Regions from separate parts of the Homo sapiens genome. Here region 1 is linked to region 2. Evidence: fine-mapped expression QTL. Tissue or cell type: whole blood. Region 2 holds a variant in brackets; the other region holds the start of a gene. All regions are shown on one strand. Distances are between the middles of the regions.

The links. PIP is the estimated chance that this variant, and not a neighbour inherited with it, causes the effect.
Region 1: TBCD starts here. The variant in region 2 is fine-mapped to the expression of TBCD in whole blood (TOPMed, PIP above 0.99).

What each region holds. Positions count from the first base shown.
Region 1 is chr17:82,748,956-82,757,056 of GRCh38, forward strand. It overlaps TBCD (tubulin folding cofactor D), which reads left to right and starts at 3,110. Exons shown (of 39, transcript NM_005993.5): 1 at 3,110-3,422; 2 at 7,210-7,260. The coding sequence starts at 3,239. FN3K (fructosamine 3 kinase) reads left to right here. Exons shown (of 6, transcript NM_022158.4): 5 at 1-22; 6 at 1,462-2,241. The coding sequence ends at 1,800. RefSeq lists silencers at 2,302-2,661, 3,352-3,671 and an enhancer at 6,018-6,312.
Region 2 is chr17:82,958,578-82,966,679 of GRCh38, forward strand. It overlaps QTGAL (queuosine-tRNA galactosyltransferase), which reads right to left. Exons shown (of 13, transcript NM_001009905.3): 7 at 7,074-7,169; 8 at 2,480-2,604. Among named protein-coding and RNA genes, the nearest start is that of QTGAL, 89 kb to the right of the region's middle. The variant G/T (reference allele first, on the strand shown) is at 4,576.

The DNA.
Region 1 (8,101 bases), 210 kb before region 2:
AGAACTCTGGTCCCGGCTACAGGTGGGCACGGCAGTGACTTCTCTGGGAAAGAGCTGGTCCTCTCATGATCCCGCCGCATTTGTGCGGGTTCATCTGTAAAACGGAGCTGGAGCAGGGAACACTGAGTCCTGGAGCACACATCAGGGAGGAAGGGGGGCAGGGGCGGGGGTTCCCCCAAAAGGGAGTCCGAAAGGAGTGAGGAGTGAAGACACACTTGGCTCCTCGTGCCCCTCTCCACTGCTAGGTCACCAGGTATTTAGCCTCAGACTTTCCTCATGTGAAACACAGGTGCTTGTAAATGGTGGTGTTTACCATGATTACTGTTCTTACTATCAGTAACACTTGTCCACTCCATCGTGTTCCTCTCCCATGGGAAGATGTGGGTACCAGATGATCCAGAATGACTGATTTCAAAACATAACTCTCGGCCGGGCACAGTGGTTCACGCCTGTAATCGCAGCATTTGGGAGGCCTAGGTGGGCAGATCACTTGAGGTCAGGAGTTTGAGACCAGCCTGGCCAACATGGTGAAACCCTGTCTGTACTAAAAATGCAAAAATTAACCGTGCATGGTGGTGCATGCCTGTAATCCCAGCTACTCAGGAGGCTGAGGCAGGAGAATCACTTGAACCCGGGAGGCGGAGGCTGCAGTGAGGGGAGATTGCACCATTGCACTCCAGCCTGGACGACAGAGTGAGATCCTGTATCAAAAAGAAAAAAAATCAAAATATAACTCTCAAAATGTTAAAAAAGAATGTGCATGTCAATCCAGAGTGAGTATACATCAAAGAGACTTGAACTCATTAATGAAGAAACTAGGCTGGGCACGGTGGCTCAAGCCTGTAATCCTAGCACTTTGGGAGGCCGAGGTGGATAGATTTTACCTGAGGTCAGGATTTCAAGACCAGACTGGCCAATATGGTGAAACCCCATCTCTACTAAAAATACAAAAATTAGCCGGGTGTAGTGGCGGGTGCCTGTAATCCCAGCTACTCAGTAGGCTGAGGCAGGAGAATCACTTGAATCCGGGAGGCGGAGGTTGCAGTGAGCCGAGATGGCGCCACTGCACTCCAGCCTGGGTGACAGAGCAAGATTCCCTCTCAAAGAAAAAAACAACAAAACCAAACAAAACCTGCAGACATATATGTGTAGCGAAATAAAAGTGGCCAGAGTTTGCTAAGGTAGCGCAACACTGGTTCCTATTCTGTGGGTCGATTAAAACTATAACCTCAGAGGTTCTCCACTGTGTGGGGATTCTAGACCTAAATTAGGAGGAAATCCTAAGTTAGACAAAGCTAGACTCCCCTGAAGTCAGGTGGCCCCTATTTCTGGGCTTGGCAGGCAGTGCTGGGGCTGGACACCGAAGCAGATCGCGAGTGGGCTTTGCCTTATTTCCAAGAACGAGGTGATGAGACCGGGGCTCCCAGAGGCCAGCGATAACTGCAGCCGTTGCTCTCGTAGGTGAAGATCCCGGATCTGTTTTGTGGCCTAGAGATTGTCCCCGCGTTGCTCCACGGGGATCTCTGGTCGGGAAACGTGGCTGAGGACGACGTGGGGCCCATTATTTACGACCCGGCTTCCTTCTATGGCCATTCCGAGTTTGAACTGGCAATCGCCTTGATGTTTGGGGGGTTCCCCAGATCCTTCTTCACCGCCTACCACCGGAAGATCCCCAAGGCTCCGGGCTTCGACCAGCGGCTGCTGCTCTACCAGCTGTTTAACTACCTGAACCACTGGAACCACTTCGGGCGGGAGTACAGGAGCCCTTCCTTGGGCACCATGCGAAGGCTGCTCAAGTAGCGGCCCCTGCCCTCCCTTCCCCTGTCCCCGTCCCCGTCTCCGTCTCCCCGTCCCTGTCCCCCCGTCCCCCGTCCCTGTGCCCCCGTCCCTGTCCCCCTGTTCCCGTCTCCCCGTCCCTCCGTCTCCATCCCCCCGTCCCCCCATCCTCCTGTCCCCGTCCCCCCGTCCCCGTCCCTCCATCCCTGTCCCCCGTCCCCCTGTCCCCCTGTCCACATACCAATCCCCCTGTCCCCGACCCCCCATCCCCGTCCCCCATCTCCGTCCCCGTCCCCCCTGCCCCGTCCCCGTCTCCGTTCCCCCGTCCCCATCCTCCATCCCCGTCTCCCATCGCCGTCCCCCCGTCCCCGTCCCCCGTCCCCGTCCCCCCTGTCCCTGTCCCCCTTCCCCCGACCCCTCCCAGATCCTGGGGACCAATAAAGCCCGCAGCGGGTCTCGGCTGGCGTCCTGCGCCTCGTTCCTCCGCTCGTGGGGCTGCTTTCAGGGCCAGACGCACGGCGAGCTGTGCACGGACGTTTTTGCGGCGATTCAGGGGAAACGCACGCGGACCCGGTAGCCAAGGCCAAAGTCGGCGCAGCGCCCACCGCGGCCTCCGGGCCCCGCTCCCGCTCCCGCTCTGGGGCGCGCCACCACTCGGCGCGGGGCCCGTGTGATCCGCGCGGGTCCCAGCGTGGCGCGAATAAGTGTCAGGGCGGTTGGCTCTGAGGGGTGGGTCCCGGGGCTCGCCTCGCGCCCCCGACTGCGTGCTCAGGCCCCGCCCCTCCCCGTCCACGCATGCTGAGGCTCCGCCCCGCTCCGCGGTCCCCCGGTCCCACCCGCCCCCGCCCCGCCCCCGCCCCGCCCCCCGGCGTGTTGTGGCTCCGCCCCGCTGTCTCCGGCCCCACCGCAAGCCCTGCCCCTCCCACCCACGCGTGCCCGGGCCCCGCCCCCGTTGCGCGCAGCCCCGCCCCCTATCGCGTGCTCAAGCCCCGCCCTGGCGGCCCCCGGCCCCATCCCGAAGCCCCGCCCCCCCGCACACCGCCTGCTCAGGCTCCGCCCCGCTGTCCTCCGGCGGCGGCCTCACCCCGCAGCCCGGCCCACCGCGTCTCAGGCCCCACCTCCTGTCCTGCCCCGCCCACCGCGTGCTCAGGCCCCGCTGAGCGGTCCCGGCTCCGCTCGCGCCCTGTGGGGTCCACGGCGCGCTCTTCCAGAGCCTTTGGGACCCGTGCCCGCTCGCGTCCTCAAGTGCACGCGCCGTCCCGCGCGCGGTATTTTGGCGGCCGACGCGTTCCGTAGCGAGGCCGGCGAGTGGGGTCGGAGGTCGCGGGGCGGGGCCAGCGTCGGTTGCCGCCTTAGCGGGCGCCTCCTTTTCATCCCTCATCCTTCATCCCTGGCTTTCGCGCTCTAGCGGAGTGGGATCTGCGAACACGTGAGGCGGGGGCGCGGTCCCCAGGCTGCCGAGATGGCCCTGAGCGACGAACCGGCCGCGGGCGGCCCCGAGGAGGAGGCGGAGGACGAGACACTGGCCTTTGGCGCGGCGCTGGAAGCGTTCGGCGAGAGCGCGGAGACCCGGGCGCTGCTGGGCCGCCTGCGGGAGGTGCACGGCGGCGGCGCGGAGCGCGAGGTGGCCCTGGAGCGGTTCCGCGGTGCGTGGGCGGCGCCGCGTGCCCGCTTCCTCCCCCGGCCCGGGTTCGGCGCGCTGAGTGCACTTTACCGGGCGGGGACCGCAGCCCGGCGGCGCCGGCCGCTCTGCGAGGGCTGCCGGTGCGCGGTCCCGCGGGCCGTGGTGGGGCGCGGCCTTCCTAGGCGGGAGAGGGCCACCCCGGCGCGGCGTTAGGTGCACGGGGCAGACGCGCGCCTCCCTTGGGGGGACCGTGGCCCGCGGAGCGCCTGCTCTCGCACGGGGTGAAGCCTCTGCGGCCTCCCCGGGAGGCGGGGTGCAGAAGCCCTCCGTCCCCCGTCTCCGTCACTGGAGGAGGTCCCTGGGCTGGGGAGACTCGGGCCAGACCCCTCCGGACAGCTGGTCAGCCCTGCAGTGTGGACTCCCAGGCTTGCCTCCACCGAGCGCGGTTTCTGTGAATGTTGTGTGGACAGGGAGATAGGGAATGAGAGAGGGGGACGCAGGGAACAAACCTGCTGCAAACAAAGCGCGCCTCGGGTGGGGAGGGCAGCAGCCTGTCCGTTCCGTGGACGCCGTGGACAGAGCGGGCTGGCCGGGTCCGTGCCTCTGCAGGCGGGGTGGGGTGTAGGTACCCCTGTGGAGGCCATTCGATGAGTCTAAATTCTCCGAGTTCAGACCCACCTTTACCGCTGTCTATAATGGGTTATTTCCAAACAAGTCCTTAGGAGCTCATAGCTAAGTAGTTACATGGGGTTTTGTAATTCAGTAAAATCATCTTTGTAGACCCTTTGAGTAAGAAGAACTTTTGCATTATTTGGCCTTCCTCATTTTAGAATGACAGCGCTTTGATTTTAGGAGTCAGGCAGGGTGGGGGGCCTTGTGGGAGGAGTGCGGGTTCGGCGTCAGATCCTCCTGCCTGTGAATTCTGGCCCTGTCGCTTGGACCTGATACTTGATTGCCTGTTTCTTCGGGTGTAAGCTGGGGCGGATAACGATGCCTCTCGTGCAGAACTGTTCTGAGGGTGAGGGACCCTCATCCAGGGACCAGTGAAGCCAGATTTTTTGTTCCTGGTGTAACAGCCCAATGGCTTCTTCCTTTTTTTTTTTTTTTTTTTTTTGATACGAAGTCTTGCTCTGTTGCCCAGGCTGGAGTGCAGTGCAGTGGTGCGATCTTGGCTCACTGCAACCTCAACCTCTCAGGTTCAAGCTATTCTCCTGTCTTAGCCTCCCGAGTAGCTGGGGCTACAGGCGCGCGCCACCACGCCCGGCTAATTTTGTATTTTTAGTAGAGGGGGTTTCACCATGTTGGTCAGGCTGGTCTCAAACTCCTGACCTCAAGTGGTCGCCCGACTCAGCCTCCCAAAGTGTTGAGATTACAGGTGTGAGCCACTGCGCTCGGCCCCAGTGGGTTCTTTCTGCGGGCTGCCCAGATAGAGTTGATTTGTCAGGGCAGGGGAGTTGCCATGGAGAAGATTTAGTTCACGCAGAGCCGGTTGAAAGGGAGACTAGACTAGAGGTTTTTTTTTTTTTTTTTGAGGCGGAGTCTCACTTTGTCCCCCAGGGTGGAGTGCAGTGATGAGATCTCAGCTCACTGCAACCTCCACAACCTCCACCTCCCAGGTTCAAGTGATTCTCCTGCCTCAGCCTCCCGAGTAGCTGGGACTACAGGTGCGCGCCACCACGCCCACCTAATTTTTCGTATTATTAGTAGTGACGGGTTTCATCGTGTTAGCCAGGATGGTCTCGATCTCCTGACCTCGTGATCCACCCGCCTCAGCCTCCCAAAGTGAGCCACCACGCCCGGCTGGAGTTTTATTATTACTCAGATCAGTCTCCCTGAGAATTTGAGGGCCAGGGTTTTTTAGAGGTAATCTGGGGGAAAGGGTGGGGGTGGCTGATTGGTTAGGGGTATACAATCATAGGGGAGTCGGAAATGATCCTCCGTGATGTGCTGAATCGCGTCTGCGTGGGGCCCCAGGAGCAGTGGGCGGGTCCAGGTGGAGCTATCATGGGTCCGTGGATCCTAGTGTAGGTGTCAGACATGGAAACAATCTGAAAAGATATCTTTAAAGGCCAGTCTCAGGTTCTGCAATAGTGACATGGTCTGCAGGAGTAACTGGGGAACTCGCATGTCTTGTGATCTCAAGAATAATGGCTGGCAATTAGGTTACGCCTTAGCGGAATTCAGGCTCCTCTCCTCCTCCTAGCCTGGTGGCCTCTCATTAACTTTACAAAGGCAGTTGAGTTTTGGGGAAGGGCTCTTAGCATTTAAACTATAAATTAAATGTCTCCCAGAGGTAGCTTGGCAGCTTGAAGACTAAAGGCATGAGGGGGTTGCCTGGATCAGATCTGCCCCATTGCCATAATTTCCTCACAGATCACTTTTGCAAAGGCAGTTTTGCTGGGAAGCAGTGGGTGTGTTCAGATGTGGAGGTGGGAGCTGCCGGATTGGACAGAAGCAGTTTCAGCTGCTGAGAGGAGGAGAAAGCGGTGGTTCAGGGTCTGGGAGGTTGTGAAGAGCTGGCAGCTGTGTGGAAGGGAGCAGTGCCTGGATATGTCAACCAAAAAGTATCTGAGACGAGTCTCAATCAGTTTAGAAGGTTAAGGGTGTGCCCGTGAGGCAGCCTCAGGAGGTCACATGTCCCCAAGGAAGTCGGGCTACAGCTTAGTTTTACACGTTTTAGGGAGACGTGAGACATCAATCAATACCTGTAAGATGTACATTGGTCTCGTCAGGGAAGGCGGGACATCTTGGGTGGGAGGGCGTCCAGGGCATTGGTGGATTCAAATATTTCACGATTGGTGATTGGTTGAAAGAGTTTATCTGAAGACCTGGAATCCATAGAAGGGATTGTCTAGGTTAAGATAAATTGTGGAGACCAAGGTTTTTCTTATGCAGATGAAGGTTCCAGTTAGCTGGTTTCAGAGAGAATAGATTGTAAATGCTTTTCATCAGACTAAAAAGGTACCAGACTTAGTTAATTTTCTCTTGGATCAGGGAAAAGACCTAGAAAAGGAAGGGATTCTCTACAGAATGTAGCTTTTCCCAGCAAGAGACAACTTAGCAGAACCATTTCAAAATATGTCAAATATATTTTAGGGAAAAATATTTTGATTTCTTTCAGGGCCTGCTGTCTGTCATGTGATGCTGTACTAGAGTCAGGCTGGAATTTGGTGTCTTATTGCTACTTAAGATCGGTTTTAATGCTAATACTGATCAGCTGTGCCTGAATTCCAACGAGAGGAGGGTATAATGAGGCCTATGTGGACCACTCCCCACAATCCCTTAATATCATGAGGCCTGAACTAGTTTTTCAGGTTAAGTTTGGAATGCCCTTGGCCAAGAGGAGGGGTCTGTTAGATGGCTAGGGGGCTTAGAATTTTGTTTTTAGTTTACAGGCATGTTTGGCAGGGGAGTGTGAGAGGAGTGCCAGGGATGTGTGTCTCACAAGGACAGAGTTGAGCTTGGCCCTTAACGGCTGGCAGAGGCAGGAGAGAGTGAAGGAAGGAAGAGGCGAGGAGGAGACTCTGTTAGGAAGAGTATCGAGGCAGTGGGAAAAGAGGAACAGTGTGCCAAGCAAGTAAACTGCACGAGGCTGGGCCACAGTGGCCCTCAAAAGGCTAGAGGGAGGTGGGGCATTCCCTCCAGGTGGCCTGTGTGGCCTCCTTTAGTGAGAGGGGAGGTGTGCTCTTGAGAGCTGGGGAAGAGGTGGAGCTGCCCTGTGGAAGCTAGCAAGGGAAAATGGGGTTTCTGAGGCTCATGGGTATGTTTGGCCTAGTGATAATTAATTTTCATGTTATATTTGTTTTTAGTAATAATGGACAAATACCAGGAGCAGCCTCATCTGTTGGACCCGCACCTTGGTAAGAATAGAAGCTGCTGATTTTGATCATTCAGTTACAGATGACCACGGAGGCCTTGGTGTGTGGTGCTGGCACATGCATGTGCTTTGCCAGGATCAAATGCCAAGAAGTGTCCCTGTCTTGCTTGCCTGGCTGGTTGGTTTTAGCCGACCTGTGATAGTGGCTTGAGTTCCAGATGTCACTCTAGGCTGGGGGGAGATGTGTCTGAGCTACTTAATTCCTTTCTGCTAAGGAAACAACATCTGCTCCTCATGTGTTTTTTTTGTTTTTTTTTCTTTTTTTTGAGACGGAGTCTCGCTCTGTCTCCAGGCTAGAGTGCTGTGGCGCGATCTCAGCTCACTGCATCCTCCAGCTCCCTGGTTCAAGGGATTCTCCTGCCTCTGCCTCCCGAGTAGCTGGGATTACAGGCATGCGCCACCATGCCCAGCTAATTTTTGTATTTTTAGTAGAGACGGGGTTTCACTATGTTGGCCAGGATGGTCTTGATCTCCTGACCTCGTGATCCGCCTGCCTCGGCCTCCCAAAGTGCTGGGATTACAGGCGTGAGCCACCGCGCCTGGCCTCCTCAAGTGTTTTTAGTTTACATTAGTTTATTATTTTAGTTTACATTTGGGCACATGATGTTTTTCTGGTAATAGTCATACAGGGTCAGGTGTTTTACATGGGTCATCATTTAATCCTCACAGCAGCTAAGGAGGGCATCTGTTGTCATCTCCAGTTTACAGATGGGGACACTGAGGCTCGGTTTTCTTACTTTAGTGTAAGGGGTGTGGTTTCTTATTGTTTTCTTTATTTTTGATGTATTTCACACTGATTAAAATTTTTCTTTTTCTACCTACAA
Region 2 (8,102 bases):
TAGCAGAACCCCCACAGGCAATGGGATGGGGGGGATGGGGGGACACGGGGTCCCCTCTGTCAGCTCAGGGAGCTGCAGGGCTTAGGCACTGTCAGGGAGGTCCTGCCTGGAGTCTACCTTTTCCTCCCCAACCCTCTGCAGCCACCTCAATAGTCCGGACCCCACCTGGGACACAGGGAGATGCTTATCCCAGTCAGTGACTTGGGGACACTGAAGCATGTGTGTGTGTGTGTATACTGTGTGGGGGTGTATGGTGTGTGTGTGTGTACACTGGGGGTGTATGGTGTGTGTGTGTGTGTACACTGGGGGTGTATGGTGTGTGTGTGTATACTGTGTGGGGGTGTATGGTGTGTGTGTGTGTATACTGTGTGGGGGTGTATGTGTGTGTGTGTACACTGTGGGGGTGTATGGTGTGTGTGTGTGTATACTGTGTGGGGGTGTATGGTGTGTGTGTATACTGTGGGGGTGTATGGTGTGTGTGTGTGTACACTGGGGGTGTATGGTGTGTATGTGTGGGGGTGTATGGTGTGTGTGTACACTGTGTGGGGGTGTATGTTGTGTGTGCACAGTGTGCATGTGTGGTGAGTGCATGTGTACATGAGCACGTGTACAGTGTGTGCAGGTGTTCGGAGTACATGCCTGTATGTACTGTGTGGATGTGTGTACACGCATGTGTACACGTGTGTGCAGTGAGGGCCTGTGCATGCAGTATGAGTACATGTATGCAGTGAGTGCACATGCCTGCATGTACCGTGCAGATGTGTGTACATGCAGTGTGTGTGCACGTGAGTGCGTGTGTGCAGTGAGCGTGTGCAGTGAGTACGTGTGTATACTTTCGTGCACGTATGTGTGTGCATGCTGTACATGTGGTCTGTGTGCACGTGCAGTGTGTGTGTGTGTGTGAGAACCTGGGTGAGGACAGCTCCTGCAGACGGCTGCGGGGACTTCCCCACCAGGTGACGCAGCCTCGCCGGGTTTTGGCATCTTGTCCTTAGCAGCCCGGGTGTGTTGGGTGTCTCGGGGCGGGGGGACGAGCCTGATCCTCCTCATCCACTGACATCAGCTTAGGGACCCCAGGGGGTTCACGTGACAGGAAAGCAGTCAGGGCTCCAGAAGAAAGCGGGGGGCCTCTGTGGCCGTGGGTGGCACGCGAGGTTTGGGGGGCCTCTGACACCGGCCTCCTCGACGGCCCCTTGTCTCCTGGGCTTTCCTAGGGGTCTCTGGTCTGAAAATGTTGGCCCATCGTAGGAAGGTAAAATGTAGAAGCAGCCATGATGTCTGTATTTGGTTCATCTTCATTTTTCACATTTTAAAAAGTTCTCATTTAATCAGGGAGAACAGGCTCCCCAGGGCGCCCTATGCCTCTCTTTTTACATCCTCAGAGGAAGCCGTGGCCCCGCCTTAGCACCGGGAAAGGTGGAAACCCAGTTTTTCCCAAAAGCACAAGACAGCATTTCTGGAAATGTTGCAAAGGAGCTGAAGTGTCAGGGACACGTCACCGCATGAGGAGGCGGCCAAGGTGCCGGTGGGCATAAGGGAGAGGAGCGCGGACGCGGGAGGCCCCAGCATGCAGGAGTGAGGATGATGCCCCCAATGGGGAAGCTCGTGGCCCTCCTGCCAACCCCCCAGCCCCACCCCGTGACCTTGGACCTTAGACCCCCTGGGGAGCTGGGATCTTGCCGAGAGTCTCAACCCCATCACGGCAGGCCTGGGACCATCGCGGCTCCCACACCCACACATGACCCTAGTTGGGGTCTTGAGACTCCGGGGGCCCTGAGTACCCGTAGGGGCCGAGACGCAAGCCTCGGACGGCGGCCTGCTTTCCAACTTAACGCTGCGGCACGCGGCAGGCAGGTGGCCGAGACCTCTGTGTCCTCACAGTTCTAAGGAGGGAACTGTCTGCCCGGATCTAAGGAAGGAATTCTACATGCAGTTTCACCCCGATTTGCCTCACCCCTGCCACGGCTCCAACGCAGCCACGCGGCACCCCCAGACCCGGGCCCACGTGGCCGCTCCTCACAGTGACACGGGAGAGGGAGGCGGACCCCGCAGCACTGGGCGCGTCCTCACTGGGTGCTGCGATTCCCTGGCCGTGCCTCTGCCACCCTCCACGGCAGCTGCGCCCCCCAGGCCTGTGGTCCCCGCCGGACCCCACTCATGAGACTCCCGTCGGGTTAAAGGGAGCACAGGGTTTCAGAAGGACCCGGCGCGTGGTCATTTTACCTCTGGGAACTAGGGAAGGACGTTCGGCCTTCACCCTGGCGCTCCCTGGCGCCCTTGGGAAATGCCCCTTCGTGGACGCCGAATCCCCGCCACCCTCGGGATGTGCTGTTGCCCCGTGTCCCACCAGACCCTGGGTCTCAAGGCAGAGCCTGACCACAGCCTCTGGGGTCGGCCCCACCAACCCCGGCCCCGACCTCGGGCGCCTCCCGTGTTCCTGGCCTCTCAGGCGTCCCGGGGCCGGGCGGGGCTGACTCACTCGAGGACGCAGTGCGTGGCCGCCTGTGGGTGGTGGCGATACAGCAGGAGACTCTGGTCCACGCGGATGACGCCGCCGCCCTTCCTGAGGTGCTCGTAGAAGAACAGCAGGTCCTCCGGGACGCCCTGCAGGGCGGGAGAAGCAGAGGCATCACTGGGGCCCCAGAAACGCGTGCCTGCCCCGGATGCACACTACACCTGCGCTCAGCCGGCCAACCAGGAACCGGTGGAAAAGGCTTTTGTTGCAAAGAAACCGGTCTAGAGGCTCAACAGGGACGTGGGGCGGCGACCACAACAGACGTGAGCAACCGAGCTTCTCCACAGGCGGGAAAGAGGGGAAGGGAGGGTGGGCTGGGTCTTGGTTCTGCCCCAAATTCCATTTTGAGCAGTAAAGGTCTCAGGGCAAAGAGGAAGACAGGCAGCCGAGGAAAGGGGCTGGGGTGGGTCAGGGTCTCACAGCCACGGCTCCTGGATGGCTGGTCCGGCCTCCGTCCCCATCCTTTCCTGCCAGTGGCTGCAGCCCCAGAAGCTCAAGGGACTCAAAGTGCCGACTGTGGGCAGAGGACAGTGGTGCTGGGTGGGCGTGTGGGGCTGCGGGCAGGGGAGCCCAGCAGTGGGGAGGCAGCCCCGGGCCTGTGCCAGCCCTGCTCACTTGTCCAAGCTCAGAAACTTGAACCTCAGCCCACGGGGCTTATCCCCGAACACTCCCTCCATGTCAGTGGGACTCTGCTCCAGAACATTCTGCAGGCATTCCCACCAGACTTTTCTGTCCTGTGAGAACCTGGGCCCTGCTTTCCCCGGCCCATGATCCCAGTGGCCCCTGCCCTCTGCTTGCTCCTCTCCTGGGTGACCCCAATCCTCAGCCCAGGGCTCTGGGCCTTGTGTGGAGCCGGGCCCCTGTCGCTTTCTTAAATTCAAACAAAACTGAGGGAGGAGCAGGGCGTGGAGTCTGGTCTCCTCGTGGTTCTCTGCGGCAGCTCACCTGGGTCAGCCGCCCGGAGACACCTTTGCTCCAGGAAAGGGCAGGTTTTCTGAGAGCCTAGCAGCAGGGCCAGTCTATCACCAAGTCCAGCCTCTTCTCTCCTTGGCTGGTACACAAACTTCAAGTGCAGGTCAGTAAAGTCCCCAAACTATCACGGCCCAACCGCTGGCCTGTTTGCTCCCAGGACAGACAGGCAGTGCTATGGTTCCACGTCCAAAAAAAAGGCACTGTTTAACCTCCGCCTCTCCAGGGCGATCCCTTTTACAAAAACCACGATGACATGGAAAGATTTGTAAGAAGATGCTGAGTCAAAGAACAGACCTCAAAATCATGTGTCAGCCCTGCTAAAAGTTTATCCACCATAAGATAAAGACAAAGGAATCACAGAAGCCCACATGCTGTCTCACACGGGTGATTTAGGGTGGAGGGTCCCGCGGGTGCTGGTGGACACGGACCCTCACACGGGTGATTTAGGGTGGAGGCTCCCGCGGGTGCTGGTGGACACGGACCCTCACACGGGTGATTTAGGGTGGAGGTTCCTGTGGGTGCTGGTGGGCACGGACCCTCACACGGGTGATTTAGGGTGGAGGCTCCCGCGGGTGCTGGTGGACACGGACCCTCGCAGGGGTCACTGAGGTATTTTCTTTAATTTTCTGTGTCTTCAAAGGCAGCTCTAAAGAGCACTGGAACTCTCAACATGTTACAGGTTTAAGAAGAGAAAAAAGGTTTCTCTCTTCCTATCACCAGAAGAGCCCGACCCTTGGGGTTTTCTTATTTTCTGGCAGTAAAGTGAGAATTTAGTCAACAGCCGCTCCCGGGTGGTGCCTCTGCCCTGGGAGGAGGGGGACGCAGAGGATCTGTCCCATTTTTCTCCCCTCCCCTGATTGCTGCTGCTGAGACCTGAGAGGCCCGAAATGGCCTCACTCCTCCCCCAGGCTTTTCCCAATCAGCCTCCAGGTGCCTGGACTGCCCTGTGGTGTGGAGGACCCCTGGCGGGGCGCAGGGAGAGGGGGAGGGGTCACAACCCAGAAAGGCATCAGGGAAGAAGCCGAGTGGAGGAAGTGTGGCCGCCGCCCAGCCCCAATCTGCTCACAGAACCATCCTCGGGCAGCCTT[G/T]GGGGATGGAGCACCCAGAACTGCCTGGAGGAGAAAAGCGTGAGCTAAAGCCACTCCCAGGAAGGCCGGGCCAGAGGCTGTGGAGACTCGGATCCTGAGGCAAAAGGAAGCCGAGTCAGGGACGCGCTTCCTTCCCCAGGGCTCGTCCCCAGCGCCACCCGCCCTTCTCTAGAGCCCCATCCCCAGCGCGAACCTCCAGGAGGAAGCAGCAGTCACCACGCGGGGACAGAAGGGGGAGAGCTCGAGCCAGGGCCCAGCGATTGGAGTCCGCGGAACGCAGGGACATGAAGTCCAGCAGAGAAAACTAAAAACTGGCAACACTTCCATGGATAAAAATTCAGCCTCTCCCTCTACAATAGCAACAAACCCCAAACCAGGAAACAGAGACCCCTGTAAATAACCCACCAAGATAAATTCCACACCCTCCACCAGTGTTTCAGGCTACAGGGTGGGATATGCGGGGAGGTGGCGGAGACCCATCTTGAATCAGAAATTCAAGGACTAAGTGCAAAACTGGACCCTAATGGGGTGGGTCTAGAGCATTGAAGAAAGTGCATTAGTGCTTGGCTAGGGCTGGCAGGTGGCTGTTAGATGAGGTGCGCCCCTGGGTGCAGGAAGTGTTTTTTGGGGGATGACAACTTCCTAACATTAGATGGTAGTGGTGACTGGTGATTGTACAGCCCTATAAATTTGCTAAAAAAAAATTGAATTGCACATTTTAATAGGTGAATTGTATGGCATGTGAATTATACCTCAATAAAGCTTTTATATAAAATTGGATCGATTTAACTAAAAAAAGAAATTTTAAGAAGAGACAAAATTGGTTGGGTGTGGTGGCTCATGCCTTTAATCTCAGCACTTTGGAAGGCTGAGGTCGGGGGGGTGGATTGCTTGAGCCCAGGAGTTCGAGACCAGCCTGGGCAACATGTCGAAACCAGTCTCTACCAAAAATAGGAAAAAAGTAGCTGGGCATGGTTGTGTGCACCTGTAGTCTCAGCTACTCAGGAGGCTGAGGTACAAGGATTGCTTGAACCTGGGAGGCAGAGGTTGTAGTGAGTGAGCCACTGCACTCCAGCCTCAGGAACAGAGTGAGACCCTGTCTCAAAAAAAAAAAAAAAAAAAAGGAACAAAATATATGAAAAATGAAGACTAAATTACAAAATCCTTAAGAGAAAATGATTTTAATTAAAAATTTAATAAGGGACACTGAAGAAAGGAAAATAGAAATTATATAATGAAAGAAGTGAAAAGGGTTAGAAAGACTAAGAAAATCTAACCAACATAGAATTGGAGTTTTTAAAACACAAAAAACAATAGACATAGCTAGTATTTAAAACGGACGCCTACAGGTGCGTCCCACGGGGGATGGGGACACGGACGCCTGCAGGTGCACCCCCACGGGGGGACGGGGACACGGACGCCTGCAGGTGCACCCCACGGGGAGGACGGAGACATGGATGCCTGCAGGTGCACCCCCACGGGGAGGACGGGGACACGGACGCCTACAGGTGCACCCCCACGGGGGGGACGGGGACACAGACGCCTGCAGGTGCACCCCCACGGGGGGACGGGGACACGGACGCCTGCAGGTGCACCCCCACGGGGGGGACGGGGACACGGACGCCTGCAGGTGCACCCCCACGGGGGGATGGGGACACGGACGCCTGCAGGTGCACCCCACGGGGAGGACGGGGACACGGACGCCTGCAGGTGCACCCCCACGGGGGGGACGGTGACACGGACGCCTGCAGGTGCACCCCCACGGGAGGACGGGGACACGGACGCCTGCAGGTGCACCCCCACAGGAGAACGGGGACATGGATGCCTGAACGTGCACTCCCACAGGGAGGACGGGGACATGGACACCTGCAGGTGCACACCCACAGGGAGGACGGGGACATGGACGCCTGCAGGTGCACCCCCATGGGGAGGACGGGGACACGGATGCCTGCAGGTGCACCCCCATGGGGAGGACGGGGACACAGACACCTGCAGGTGCACTCCCACGGGGGGGATGGGGACACAGACGCCTGCAGGTGCACTCCCACGGGGGGGACGGGGACATGGACGCCTGCAGGTGCACCCCCATGGGGGGGACGGGGACACAGACGCCTGCAGGTGCACCCCCGGGGGGAGGATGGGCTCCCCTTCTCCCTCTGTTGTCCCAGAGACAGCTCTGCCAAAAGCTTCCGTGTCCTGCGCTTTCCCAGACACAGCTTTTAAACCAGGATGCAGTAACCTGGAGCCAGTGTAGGTCAGGTGCAGATGCCCAGGGCACCCACAGCCTTCATGCAGAAACCCCCTGCTTTCAGCAAAACAACTAAGATGCTGGCAGGTGCCAGGAGGGGGCACCGGGAGGACCCTCAGGCAGGGGTTTCCTAAATCTGCAGAGCCCCGGAGGCATGGCAAGGCGGAGGGTGGCCAGTGTGCAGAGCCCACACACAGAGACAGGGCCCCGAACCTGGGGGAGGGACCTGATTCCCGCCTTCGGCCCTTACCTGACCTCCCTCGTTAAAGGGGCCCACGTGGGAGAACCACGCTCGCGAGCAGAACCAGGTGGGCATGATCACCGTGGGGCCATTTGAGGTGAAAACCTAGAAGCAATTAACGTTGACAGAGTTAGCGGAAAAGAACAGCTTGTCACAAACAACCTGCAGTTTATTTCCACAAAGTGTCACGAGAAAGTGACAGATGAATCCGTGTCCCTTCTCCACAGGGTCAGGGCCTCAAGAGACTTCACCACGGGGCCGACGTGTCCCTTCTCCACAGGGACGGGGCTCAAGGGGCTTCATGACGTGGCTGACGTGTCCCTTCTCCAGTGCTGTGATCATCACTCACTGTAGCCTTGACCTCCTCAAGCAATCCTCCTATCTCAGCCTCCCAGGTAGCTGGGACCACAGGCGTGTGCCACCACACCTGGCTGATTTTTACTTTTTTTTTTTTTTTGTAGAGATGTTTGTCACTCTGTTGCTCAGGCTGACCTCAAACCCCTGGCCTCAAGCGATCCTCCCACCTGAACCTCCCAAGCAGCTAGGACTATAGGCGCACACCACCGTGCCTGGCTATTTTCTTACATTTCTTTTGTAGAGATGGGGTCTCACTACACTGCTCAGGCTGGTCTTAAACTCCCGGCCTCAAGCGATCCTCCCAGCTCAGCCTCCCAAAGTGCTGGGATTACAGGTGTGAGCCATCATGCCTGGCTCAACGGAGATTCTAAAATGTATATAGAAACACAAAGGACCTAGGAGAGCCAGCACAATTTTGAAAACCATGAACAAAGTTGAAGTTTCATGACTGTATTTCAAGATTTACTACAAAGCTATGGTGATCAAGGTTGATTGGTATCAGCTTATGGGCAGACAGACAAACGGAACAGAACAGAGACCAGAAGCAGAGCCGCCTGGCTGGGGTTTGATGTTTGCTGAAGACATCAGGGGCGTCAGTGGTGGAAATGAGAGATGGCGCTGGAACCACTGGTGTCCTTACAAACCATGGCCCTCAACCCTTGCCTCAGGCTCCAAACACAA